2 separate regions of the Homo sapiens genome follow, and region 1 is linked to region 2. A link means that fine-mapping ties the variant in region 2 to the expression of a gene that starts in the linked region. Tissue or cell type: aorta. Region 2 holds a variant in brackets; the other region holds the start of a gene. All regions are shown on one strand. Distances are from middle to middle.

Region 1 (5,368 bases), 9.5 kb after region 2:
AGAGGGAACAGCACATGCCGAGGCCCAGGGGCAGGAGAGTCTTCATGCCTCTGAACCCCACGTACACTCCCTTGATAGCACATTTCACAGTTGTAATTTGACATGAATTTGAAGGCAGGACAGACTCGTGGTTGAATGCACAGGCTATGATGTCAGACTACATGAGTTCAAATTCTGGCTCCATGCCTACTAGCTGTGTGACCTTGGGCAAGTTGCTTGACCCTGCTGTGCTTGTTTCCACATCTGTAAAATGTGGGGTGATAACAGTAACACCTAACTCAGAGGGTTGTAGGAGTTGATAATTTATGTAGGCAAAAACAGCTCAGACAGCACCTGGCAGGTAGTAAGTGCTCAGTAAATGTTAGCTATGCTTATTTATTTATGTGAACTTCTTTTTTTCTTTCTCCCTCACTAGACTGTAAAGTCTGCAAGAGCAAGGCTCCAGGTCTGTATGTGTGAAGTCCCAGCACAGTGTCTGGCCTGTGGAAGACCCTTGATCAATGTTTGTAGAGGGAGTGAGGGGACTGCAAGGTCAGTGTGGGCAAAGGGAGCCAGGGGGAGGTGGGGAGGGTTTGGGGAGGTGGGAGGGTTGGGGGAGGTGGGGAGGGTTGGGCTAGAGAGGCTGGGTAAGCTAGGCAGGGCTTTGCAGGCCACAGGAAGGGTTTGGTGTTTGTAGTTAGAGCAGTGGGAATGTTTGAAGATTCTGAATCAAGGGGGCAGGGGATCTGGTTGGTATTTTGTAAAGATGACTGGGCTGTCAGTTTCAACATCAACTGAACCCCAAGTATATGTCAATGTTATATTAGGTGCTTTGTTAAATGCTATTTCATTCATTTTATAAAATGATTGTGGGAAATAGGCAGACAGCTAAGAAAATGAAAGCTCAGAAGGATTAAGTAGTTTGCTCCAAATCTCATAGCTGGAAAGTGCTATAGAAATGGACTGAAGATCTCTTGTTTTTGTTTTTTATAGAGACAGGGTCTTGCTCCATTGCCCAGGCTGGAGTGCAGTGGTGCAATCATAGCTCACTGCAGCTTTGTCCTCCTGGGCTCAAGAAATTGTCCCACCTCAGCCCCCTGAATAGCTGGGACTTACAGGTGTGTGTCACGATGCCCAGCTAATTTTTTCAATTTTTTTTTTTTTGTAGCAGAGATGAGGTCTTGCTAGGTTGCCCAGGCTGGTCTTGAACTCCCAAGCTCAAGTGATCCTCCTGCCTCAGCCTCCCAAAGTGTTGAGATTACAGGCGTGAGCCACTGTACCTGGCTTGAAGATCTCTTTAGCTCTGTATCAGTTAGAATATTAGTGCAGCTTCTATAACAAAGACTTTGAATTACCAAACACTTAAATGTGGCCATTTGTTTTTGTCTTACTTGTATTATAGCTCTCCCCTATGAAATTAGTCAGGACCCCAGGGCCCTTCAATTTGATCGCCCTGCCATCCTCAATATGTGGTCCATTATGGTTGCTCCAGCTCCTGCCATTACAACTGCATTCTAGTCAGTGAAAAGCAGGAAAAGAGGAAGGAGAGGGCGTGCCCTTCTCTTTAAGGATGTGGTACATTTACAGTATATACATTGTTTCTGCTCAGATCACAATAGCCAGAACTGTCACATGGCCTCAACTAGCTGCTGGGAAATGCCATTTTTATACCTTGCAGCCATGAGTACAGCCATACTTCTGGGGAGTTATTAGTAAAGGAGGAGAGGAGAGTGGGTATTGGGAACAACTGGAAATTTCTGATTCATACTCCAACATGTGCTGGAGGGAAAGATTTAAGAGTTATATTAGATACCATATGGGGAGGGGGTAGCTGAACAGCTTGAGTCCCCCTCTTTCATGGGAAGGGGGGGATGTGTAGGGATGGGTACCAGGGGCCATGTCAGTGTATTGAGATATCTTGACCACTTCCTCCAGTCATACTGCAGACTGGTCCAGGGATGAGTTCGTGACTCAAGTTGGGTCAGTTCAAATGCCCCCCTTGGACTGGAGAAAGAGAATGAGAAAGGGTCTGGGGTTGGGGTGGGTGGCTGCATGGAGTTCTCAACATTATCTCCAGGGAGGTGACTGCCTCTCTGCATGGCCTCTGTCCTCGTGCTTACTCCTCTGCAAGGTCAATCTGTCCATTCCCCTGTATCTCGGGCACAGAGGACAAGGCCTGAGGCTGCAGGGCAGAGCTTTCTATGCTCCATGTGTGGAGTCTAGAGACTGCAGAAAGAGCAGCTTAACTCACAGGGCCACCCAGACTAGACGGTGGACATCTCTGAGGACAACAGACTGGATGACCAGGTGGGCCTGTCTCCAGGCCTTGGTGCTATCTAAGCTCCAAGTGTTAGATACAACCTAAAGTTTCTTGCTAGTGCTGCAGAGAGGGTTGTGTGATGTAGAAAATAGAGACATAGGAATATTGCTGTGCCTTTGCAGGCTGTGAGTCATCCTGACACAGAGGTACTGTAGACAGAGGAGAGTCGTGGGTGGAAGCAGGGGAACATTGCTGTGTAAGGAGAAGGGAAGGAGAGGAGGAGAAGGTCCTGTGAAGAAGACAGAGGTCTCAGAGAGGAAGGAGGAGGACCTAGAAGGGGTGGTGTTTTGATGGGGAAAGGAGCTTTTCTTCTTTTCTAGAAGGAAAGAATGGCTGGTCAACAGTCCAGCCACCACCTTAGGATCAAAGTTAGTGAGCCCCAGAAGAAGGACACTGAATTTGGCCACAAAGAAATCATCCTTGTCCTTTTCTTTGGGAAAAGAGCGACAGCATCAGTAGGGGGCAGGAGGCTGAGGAAGTGGCTTAGCACAGCGTCAGGCTCATGAAAGTCTCACGAGATTTGTAGAGTTGGTGAACTGATGAGTGAATAGGAAGTAGAGACACAGCAAGTATAGACAGCTCGGAAGACCTTGACCCCCACCCACCCCAATCGACGTGTTTTCCTGGGCTTTACTCTTTGCTTCCGTTAGTCACTTTGGCCAAGGTTTCTCCTGCGTAGACGTCAGGATGGCGAGGACAGAGGCCAGGAAGGAAGGAGATGTGTCCCAGAAAGCTGAAGCCCCCTCCTGGGGCAGCCTTTTGGAAGGAGCTTCTGATACCTAACCTGGATCATTCCTGCTGCAGTATCAGCAGGTGTCAGCCGGGGAAGGAGAAGCCTTCTGTGAATGACAGTCCTTCAGATGACTAAAAACAGCTGAACTCTATCCCAAGCAGATATAAGAGAGGTGGAGATCAGGTGAGAGCCGCAGCTGGGTGGAATTCAGGGCAGCGTCAGCGTTCTGTGTGTGCCTGGTGCTGGGTTACAGCCGTCTCACTGCGCTTCCTCTTCTCCGATTCCTGCTCCAGGATCTCACCCTCCCCAGCCTCTAATAACCCCAAATCCTGGATTGGTGTTTGGGAGACCGTGGCTGGCCAGGTAAACAGGGCAGGCCGGGAGCAACAGCAGACACTGGAGGGAGGGAGTCGGGCCCTCCTCTGGATGAGTATTTGGGACCGGCAGGAAGGGCAGGTGGGGGAGGCTGAGTTCGAGGTTTCCCCCTTGGGGTCTCCTCTCTCCTGTTTCCAGTCTCCCCCGTCTCCCTTTTCAGCGCCTCCTCCCTTCCAGCCCATCCTGTCTGCATTTGCCCTCTGCCTTCCCTCCTCTCTGTCCCTCCGTTTCCCATCTCATCTGCCTTCTGTCTCCCAGGCAGCCTCCCCCAAGGCCCCACCCCGCTGAGGCACCTGTAGGCAGGGTTTCGGCAGGAGCTGCTGCCAGTGGTCCTCAGGGGAGGATGGACCTCCCTTTTCAAGAACTTCTGAAAACAGGAGGGGCCTAAACTTGGACTGGGGAGAGCTAAGGGAGGACTTTGGGATGTCCATACAGGCAGGGATTCTGTGACCCTTTGGTTTTCTTCTCCCCCGCCAGTTAAGGCAGAGCTGCCACGGGCTACGGCTCCCTCTAGTGGCCAACTTGGGAACCGCAGCCACTCATTGCCTTTCCTGGAAGCGGTCACAGTGGGCAGTAGGCTGAATCAACTGTCCAAGGGCCTGAGAGGCACAATTAATAGACAGCTGGAAGCCGAGAGTCTTCAGGTACTTAGAGACAGGCTGATTATTAAAAGCTTCAGTACAGCGGTGAGGACGGAGACCCACAGTCTCTGTTCCCATTATCAATCATCCCTCGTGGCGGATTGGACCTGGCCCAGATTTTCTCAATCATTTCTCAATGACCACCACTCAGGCAGTCAGCAGTGGCAGGAGCCAGAGAGCTCCAGGGCTCCAGGGTGTGGCTCAGCAGAAGGGGCACTGGACACAACGGGGCCTAGGCAAGATCCTTCCCCTCTCAAAACCCCCATGTCCCGTTCTTTGGGCCTTTGGGACCTGGGTGTCTCTGGGCTGCCCTCTCACAGCCCTGCATAGCCCATGCCCTAGTGCTTGCTCGCTGAGTCTGCAAGGCCAACCTGTCCATTCCCCTGCAGCCGGCCTGCTGCTTGGCAGGGCAGGTGAGCGCCTCTCCTGTGGCAGACGGTGCAGTGTTCAGCTCCACTGGACCTTTCGGGTGATTTGACCTCTGGAAGTTCTATTCCACTCACTCTTGCTTCTCCCCTTCCAAGTGACTACATTCCTAGAGGTTCTAGCACCTGCGGAGATGGAAACAGCTGCTCCCCATCCTCCGGGATCTGGGTCAGAGAACCTGAAATGCAGGCATCTTTATTTCCCAGACTCAGTTATTAGACTTCCCTCTTTTTCAGAGTCAATGACCCCCACAAAAAGAGTGAGCATGAACATCAACCTTTCTCCAAGGACACCCAGGCTCTGATTTCACTGAACTACCCCAAGTCTCTATGAACGTGGAACTGAATCTGACTGATTGAAAGTAAAATTAAAAAGTAAATAGTCCTCTTTTCCCTAAAAGGAGTGGTAGTGGGTGCTTCTGCAGAGGTAGGATCAAAGCACTGAGAAGCCTATTAGAAAACAAGGACAGTAAAACACTCTCTTTTACCTGCAGGCAGAACATGGGGGCAGAGTGCCCAGGCAGAGCAGGATTTGCCTTCACATCCATCCAATATGGGCCCAAGTGTCAGCTTTGCTAGTTTCTCACTTATGTGATCCCGGACAAATTATTTGACCTCTTGTTGCCTCAGTTTCTTCGTCTATAAAATGGGCCAGTAATAACTAGCTGACAAAGTTATGTGGATATTCACAATTCTGTGTATAGAATGCCGAGCACAGTGCTCATGTGACATGGTGGGAGGCAAGTAACATTTACTGGCTGTCTATGATACTGTTGGGCCCTGCATGAGATGCACAGGATGTCACTTACAAAAAACTCAAAATGGTGGCCGTGATCACTCCCATTTCACAGATTAGAAAACCAAGGCTCGGAGAAGGTAAGTAACAACTCTGTTA
Region 2 (5,368 bases):
TATACATGAGACATACTGACAGAATCTGTAAGCTAATAAAATGTAAGAAAAGGTTAAAAAAAGAATAGGTAAATTGACAAGAAGTATTTATTGTTTTTCCATATTGCTTTATTGCCTTCCTTGGGGATAAACCAATTCCTATCCTTTTTTATATGTGTAAGTAAAGCCTGAAGTGTAGGGGGCCTTTGTTCTTGAAGCAGCCAGGGTCTCCTTGCCCTGGCCTTGGCCTTCCCTAGACTGTGTGGGGCTCAGCATTGGGAGGGGTTGCACATGTCCCAGCCTTTGGCCCCCTTACTTTTCAGCAAGCCAGGGGCCCAGCAGTCAGCTCCCAGGATGTGTGGGGAGCTGTCCCTGACTCTGCAGGCCTGAGCGAGTGTGTGAGCATGCGGGGACATGGGTGTGTATGGCACACATAGGTGCGTGTGTGTCTTTTGTATTTTTTCTCCTCCAAGGAGCTGTGTCAGTGTGGACGTTCTGTTTCAGGGAGTTGGAAAGGAGGGTGTCTGCAGAAGGTGGAGAGCAGGGGCAGAGGCCCCACTGGCCACCCCCTGCTTCCCAGAGTGAAACCTTGTGCCTGGTGACCAAAGTCCCTCCAAAGTGCTCTTCCTTCTGGGTTATTCAAGCCAAATATCTGGGTTTCCCCCTCTCCTCATTCCCTAGCAAACCCCAATTATCTTCCAAGATAGGAGATATTTCCCATCCCCTTCCTTTGTAAATATCTCATCTCCCACTGGAGAGCCCAGGAGCCTATTCCTGGCATGGATGTTCTGTCCACACTTGAGGCTGGGCGGTGTATCAGACCCTTCAAGCAGCCTGGCTGGGGCCCAGGACTGAGTCTGGGGTCAGCTTTCACGGTCGCTTTTCCCTTCCTCACCACCCACCACAGCCCACCTTGCATGCATGGCCAGCCCCTCCACTCCAGCCTGAGCCATGTGTGCCCCTGCGGGAGGACCCATTCATGCCAGAAAGCTGGTAACTCCCTCCCAGCATCCCTGCGGAAGGAGTCAGTTTCTGAGAGTGTGACTTTTCAAGGCGAATGATGGGGAAGGGTTCCCCAGTCCCCACAGTGGCCCCACCTCTGGGCCCTGCACCAGAGCCCTTCTGTGTCACGGCGGGCTGTGCACCCATGCACACACCTACGCACACACAACACTCCGCACTGCAGTATATTCTTGCCAAAGATTTCCTTTAAAAGCAAGCACTTTTACTAATTATTATTTTGTAAATGTTTATCTTCTTCTGTCTTCTCCCTCCCTGAATCTATTTTACTGTTGTTTATTGTTGAATCTGTGTGTCAGCCAGGAGAGCGCTGTCTGGCCTTGAACATGGGCTGGGATGGGAAAGGGTCTGGGAGAAGATGGGCAACAAAGAGCCAGGGAGTCATGGACATCGCAGCGACGCAGACCCCAGCAGGTTCAGTCCCGTGCTGCCACCAGCTGTCCAGCTGGGTGTCTGGAGGGAAGAGGGCAGAGGAGGGTCATGTCCCTTCAGCTGGGGGAGGGGCCCAGTGAGCTCCACGTGGCTTTTTCCCAAAGGGAGCAAGAGGGAAGGATTGGGCGAGAAAACAATGGAGAGGGGACCTGCGAAGGAAAACAGGGAGGAAGTGAGCGGTTTGATCAGCCTGCTATCACGGTGTTCTGGCTCTCTTATTTAGCCAGGCGCTTAAGGGACAGATACATCACATCCTAAGTTTGGGAAAGGCCTTTGACCCATGTCATCTGAGCGTCTCCTCCAGTAGCTCTGAAAGCTGTGGACACCAATGGCCAGGATTCCTTCTCCCCTGGTTTTTGAGGATCCCTGGGTCTTCTGAGACTGGCCAGGAGAGGGATGGTGGGGCCAGTGGTTGTGTGAAAGCAGGAGGGGCAGCCCTCCTGGACAAGTGTGATCCCCCTATAAACGGCTCTCAGGAGGTTAGTGAGTAGGAGATTCTGCCTTGTTCTGATGAGCCTGTGCAGGGGCTCCAGGGGAGCATGCTGTCCAGGGGGCACAGAAGGGTGGTGAGTGTGATCAAATCTAGTCTCACTCCCACTTTTTAGTCTCACTCCTACTTTTGTCCACCACCCCTGCCTCCTGGATCTTCTCCCACTTTTTTTTTCAGCTTTAGGACCTGGGGAGATCCTGTGAGTCAAGGCAGACACCCAATCCTGCCCCCACACTCGGGGTCCTCCAAGAGGTTGGGGGGCAGAGTCCCAGAGCAGCCCTTTACCCCAGGTCCAGGCCCTGGAATCCTGAGACTCGCGTTTCCTTGGCCAGTGGTAACACAGGACGTGTGTGCGCATGTGCAAGTGTGGATGTATGTGTGTGCGTGTGTTTTGCTCATTTCTTTAGGGAACTTGGGAGTCGGGGTTGGAGGTGCTGGGCAATGGAACTTCAAATTCAATGTCGCCCAGCAGTGAGGGGAGTCGGGAGGTGAGGCCTGTAGGCCAACCAATTGGTGGAGTCTCAGCGATAGCCCAGGTGAGAAGTGGTTCACCCAGAGGGGCAGGGTGGGGGCCTCGGGCAGATCTGTCCCTCTTGGCACCTCTGTCCTCAAATGTCCAAAATGTTGGAGGACCTCTGTTCATATCCCACGCCTGGGCTCTTGCCAGCAGTGGAGTTACTGTAGAGGGATGTCCCAAGCTTGTTTTCCAATCAGTGTTAAGCTGTTTGAAACTCTCCTGTGTCTGTGTTTTGTTTGTGCGTGTGTGTGAGAGCACATCAGTGTGTGCAGGCTGTGTTTCCCCATTTCTCTCCTCCCTTCAGACCCATCATTGAGAACAAATGTAAGAAATCCCTTCCCACCACCCTCCCTGCCTCCCAGGCCCTCTGCGGGGGAAACAAGATCACCCAGCATCCTTCCCCACCCCAGCTGTGTATTTATATAGATGGAAATATACTTTATATTTTGTATCATCGTGCCTATAGCCGCTGCCACCGTGTATAAATCCTGGTGT[A/C]TGCTCCTTATCCTGGACATGAATGTATTGTACACTGACGCGTCCCCACTCCTGTACAGCTGCTTTGTTTCTTTGCAATGCATTGTATGGCTTTATAAATGATAAAGTTAAAGAAAACTCTGTGCCGTTATCTATCTGTGTTGTTCGGACAGGGGTCTGCCATGTCTCTGGTGGGCAAAAAGGGGCCTCTCCAGAGATCCAGGTGGGCTTCAGCGATGCCTCTAGTGGACAGCTCAAATCCTCCCAGCGGCCTCCCCACCATCTGCGTGGTGGTTCTGGTTCCCTGTGTTTATTCATTTGGACTCTTTCAGCTGCAAGAGAAACTCAACTCAAACTTGTTTAAGAAAAAGATAAGTTTCTTGGCCCGAGTGACTGAGAAGGCCAGGCCTAGCTGCATTTAAGGGCTCAAATGGTAGAATCTGGAATTCATCCCCATCACTTGGTTCTGAGTTGGCTTAACTTTCAGGTAAGCTGTATCTGAGTGGCGGTGCCCCCAGATGCTCTGGGCTTCCATCCCACCAGCTCGGTAGCTCTAGGAGAAAGGGGGGCTCTTTTCTCCCAATGTTCTCAGCAAGAAACTGGGACATGCGATCATTGGCTGTGATCTGGATCCTGCCTGGCTCATATGATTAACTCGAAACCAATCATTCTATCCGGATCTGGGTCACGCAACTGCCTCTGGAGCCTTCTGAAACTACGGGGACTGAGAATGGGGAAGTGGTTGATCCCGGAAGGAGTGAGGTCTGTCAGAGACAGGGGGAACACGGGTTGTCAGGCAACATCTATTGGGGCCTGTGCCCATCAAGTGGCAAATGTGTGGTTCACTCGTGCACTAGGCCCAGGGCTCCTGGGCAAATTCTTTGGAATTCAGAAAGTTTGGGGGTGGGACCTATTGAGACATGCCTAGCACAGCACAGGGGTCTCTGGGAGATCCAAAATACTCAGTGACGTGGTGCTAGCTCTCCACTGAGCTCACCATGTGGCTGGAGGAGGCTCAGATCAGCTTATTTGAGCAGGTTTGTGCTGAGCCCCCTCAGTGACCCTCACGGTCCTCGTGTGGGCAGCCTTCTCAAGCTTTTGGGTCTTGGGATTCCTTTACATTCTTAAAATTATTCAGGACCCCAAAGGGCTTTTGTTTAGAAGGATTATATCTTTTGATCTTTTACCATAGTATAAATTAAAACTGAGAACATTAAAAATACTTAATTCACTTCCATAGTGATAAATTCATCACATGTTAATATAGAGAGCATTTTTGTGAGAAATAATATTTTCTAAAACAAAAAGCACTGGGTGAGAAGGTGACTTTGCTTTGCATTATTATTATTATTATTTTTGAGACGGGGTCTTGCTCTGTCGCCCAGGCTGGAGTGTAGTGGCACAATCATAGCTCGCTATGACTAGCCTCCACCTCCTGGGTTCAAGTGATCCTCCCACCTCAGCCCCCAAGGAGCTGGGACCACAGGTGTGCGCCACCACACCTGGCTAATTTTTTAATTTTTTTTTTTGTACAAAAGAGGTTTCACTATGCTGCTCAGGCTGGTCTCGAACTCCCGGGCTCAAGCAATCCTCTCTCCTTGGCCTCCCAAAGTGCTGGGATAACAGGCGTGAGCCACCATGTGCTTTGCAGTTTTTAAAGGCCTAATCATGTCTGGCTTAGCAGGAGATAGCTGGATTCTTATATAAGCTTCTGCATACAATCTGTTGCAATATCACCCATCATGGGCCTCTGGAAAACACTGTATACTTGTGGGAAAATGAGCAAAAAAAAGTCAAATAATGGCTTAATAGCATTATGAAAATGGTTTTGACCTCAACACTCCTGAAAGGGTCTCAGGGACCCCTGGGGTCCCCGGATCATACTTTGAAATCTGTTGCTATGAGGGATACAAGACACAGGAAACTCAGACCCTGTCCAAGGTGGAGACTGAACATGTCTTGCACCCTGCTCTCTGTTAGGTATCGTCATGCTGAGTCATCCCAACAAACCCATGAGGTAGGCGCTGTTATACACAGGGACAAGTAAGGAAACCGAGGCTCTGAGAGGTCACACAGTTTCTAGCTGGCAGAACTTGTACTCAGCATCACCACCACCGGTGAAGGCTGGCACTCAGCCAACACCTGCTACGTGCCAGAGAGCCTGTGCTAAGCACTTGGGTATCATTTCTCACGCACGTGCACCTGAGAGGTAAGGGCTATCCTTGTCCTCATTTCACAGTTGAAGAAACTGGAGTTCAAAGAGGTGAAGACACTTACTCAAAATCACAGAGTTGGGGTAAGTGGCCCAGCCAGGCTACGAACCCAGGTGAGCTGACTTCTCAGCCAGGCTCTTCCTAGCTCTTGCCTCTTTCTCTGCTCTCAGGGCTGGCTTCTGAGGGGAGAGACAGACTCTGATGAGCCATGGGCAAGTGGGAAGCCAAACTGATGTCACTGGT

Alleles and levels. Alleles are on the strand shown, and positions count from the first base shown. SD is a standard deviation of normalised expression in the study named.
In carriers of allele C in region 2, the expression in aorta of the gene that starts at base 2,856 in region 1 tends to be higher than with A alone (moderate effect, 0.43 SD a copy in GTEx).

The links. PIP is the estimated chance that this variant, and not a neighbour inherited with it, causes the effect.
Region 1: it holds the start of DIRC3, and the variant in region 2 is fine-mapped to the expression of DIRC3 in aorta (GTEx, PIP above 0.99). The same link has a PIP of 0.9 or more in sigmoid colon and tibial artery.

The regions. Positions count from the first base shown.
Region 1 is chr2:217,787,931-217,793,298 of GRCh38, reverse strand. It overlaps DIRC3 (disrupted in renal carcinoma 3), which reads left to right and starts at 2,856. Exons shown (of 13, transcript NR_186301.1): 1 at 2,856-3,215.
Region 2 is chr2:217,797,476-217,802,843 of GRCh38, reverse strand. TNS1 (tensin 1) reads left to right here. Exons shown (of 33, transcript NM_001387777.1): 33 at 1-3,053. Among named protein-coding and RNA genes, the nearest start is that of DIRC3, 9.7 kb to the right of the region's middle. RefSeq lists enhancers at 3,485-3,534, 3,565-3,634. The variant A/C (reference allele first, on the strand shown) is at 2,934.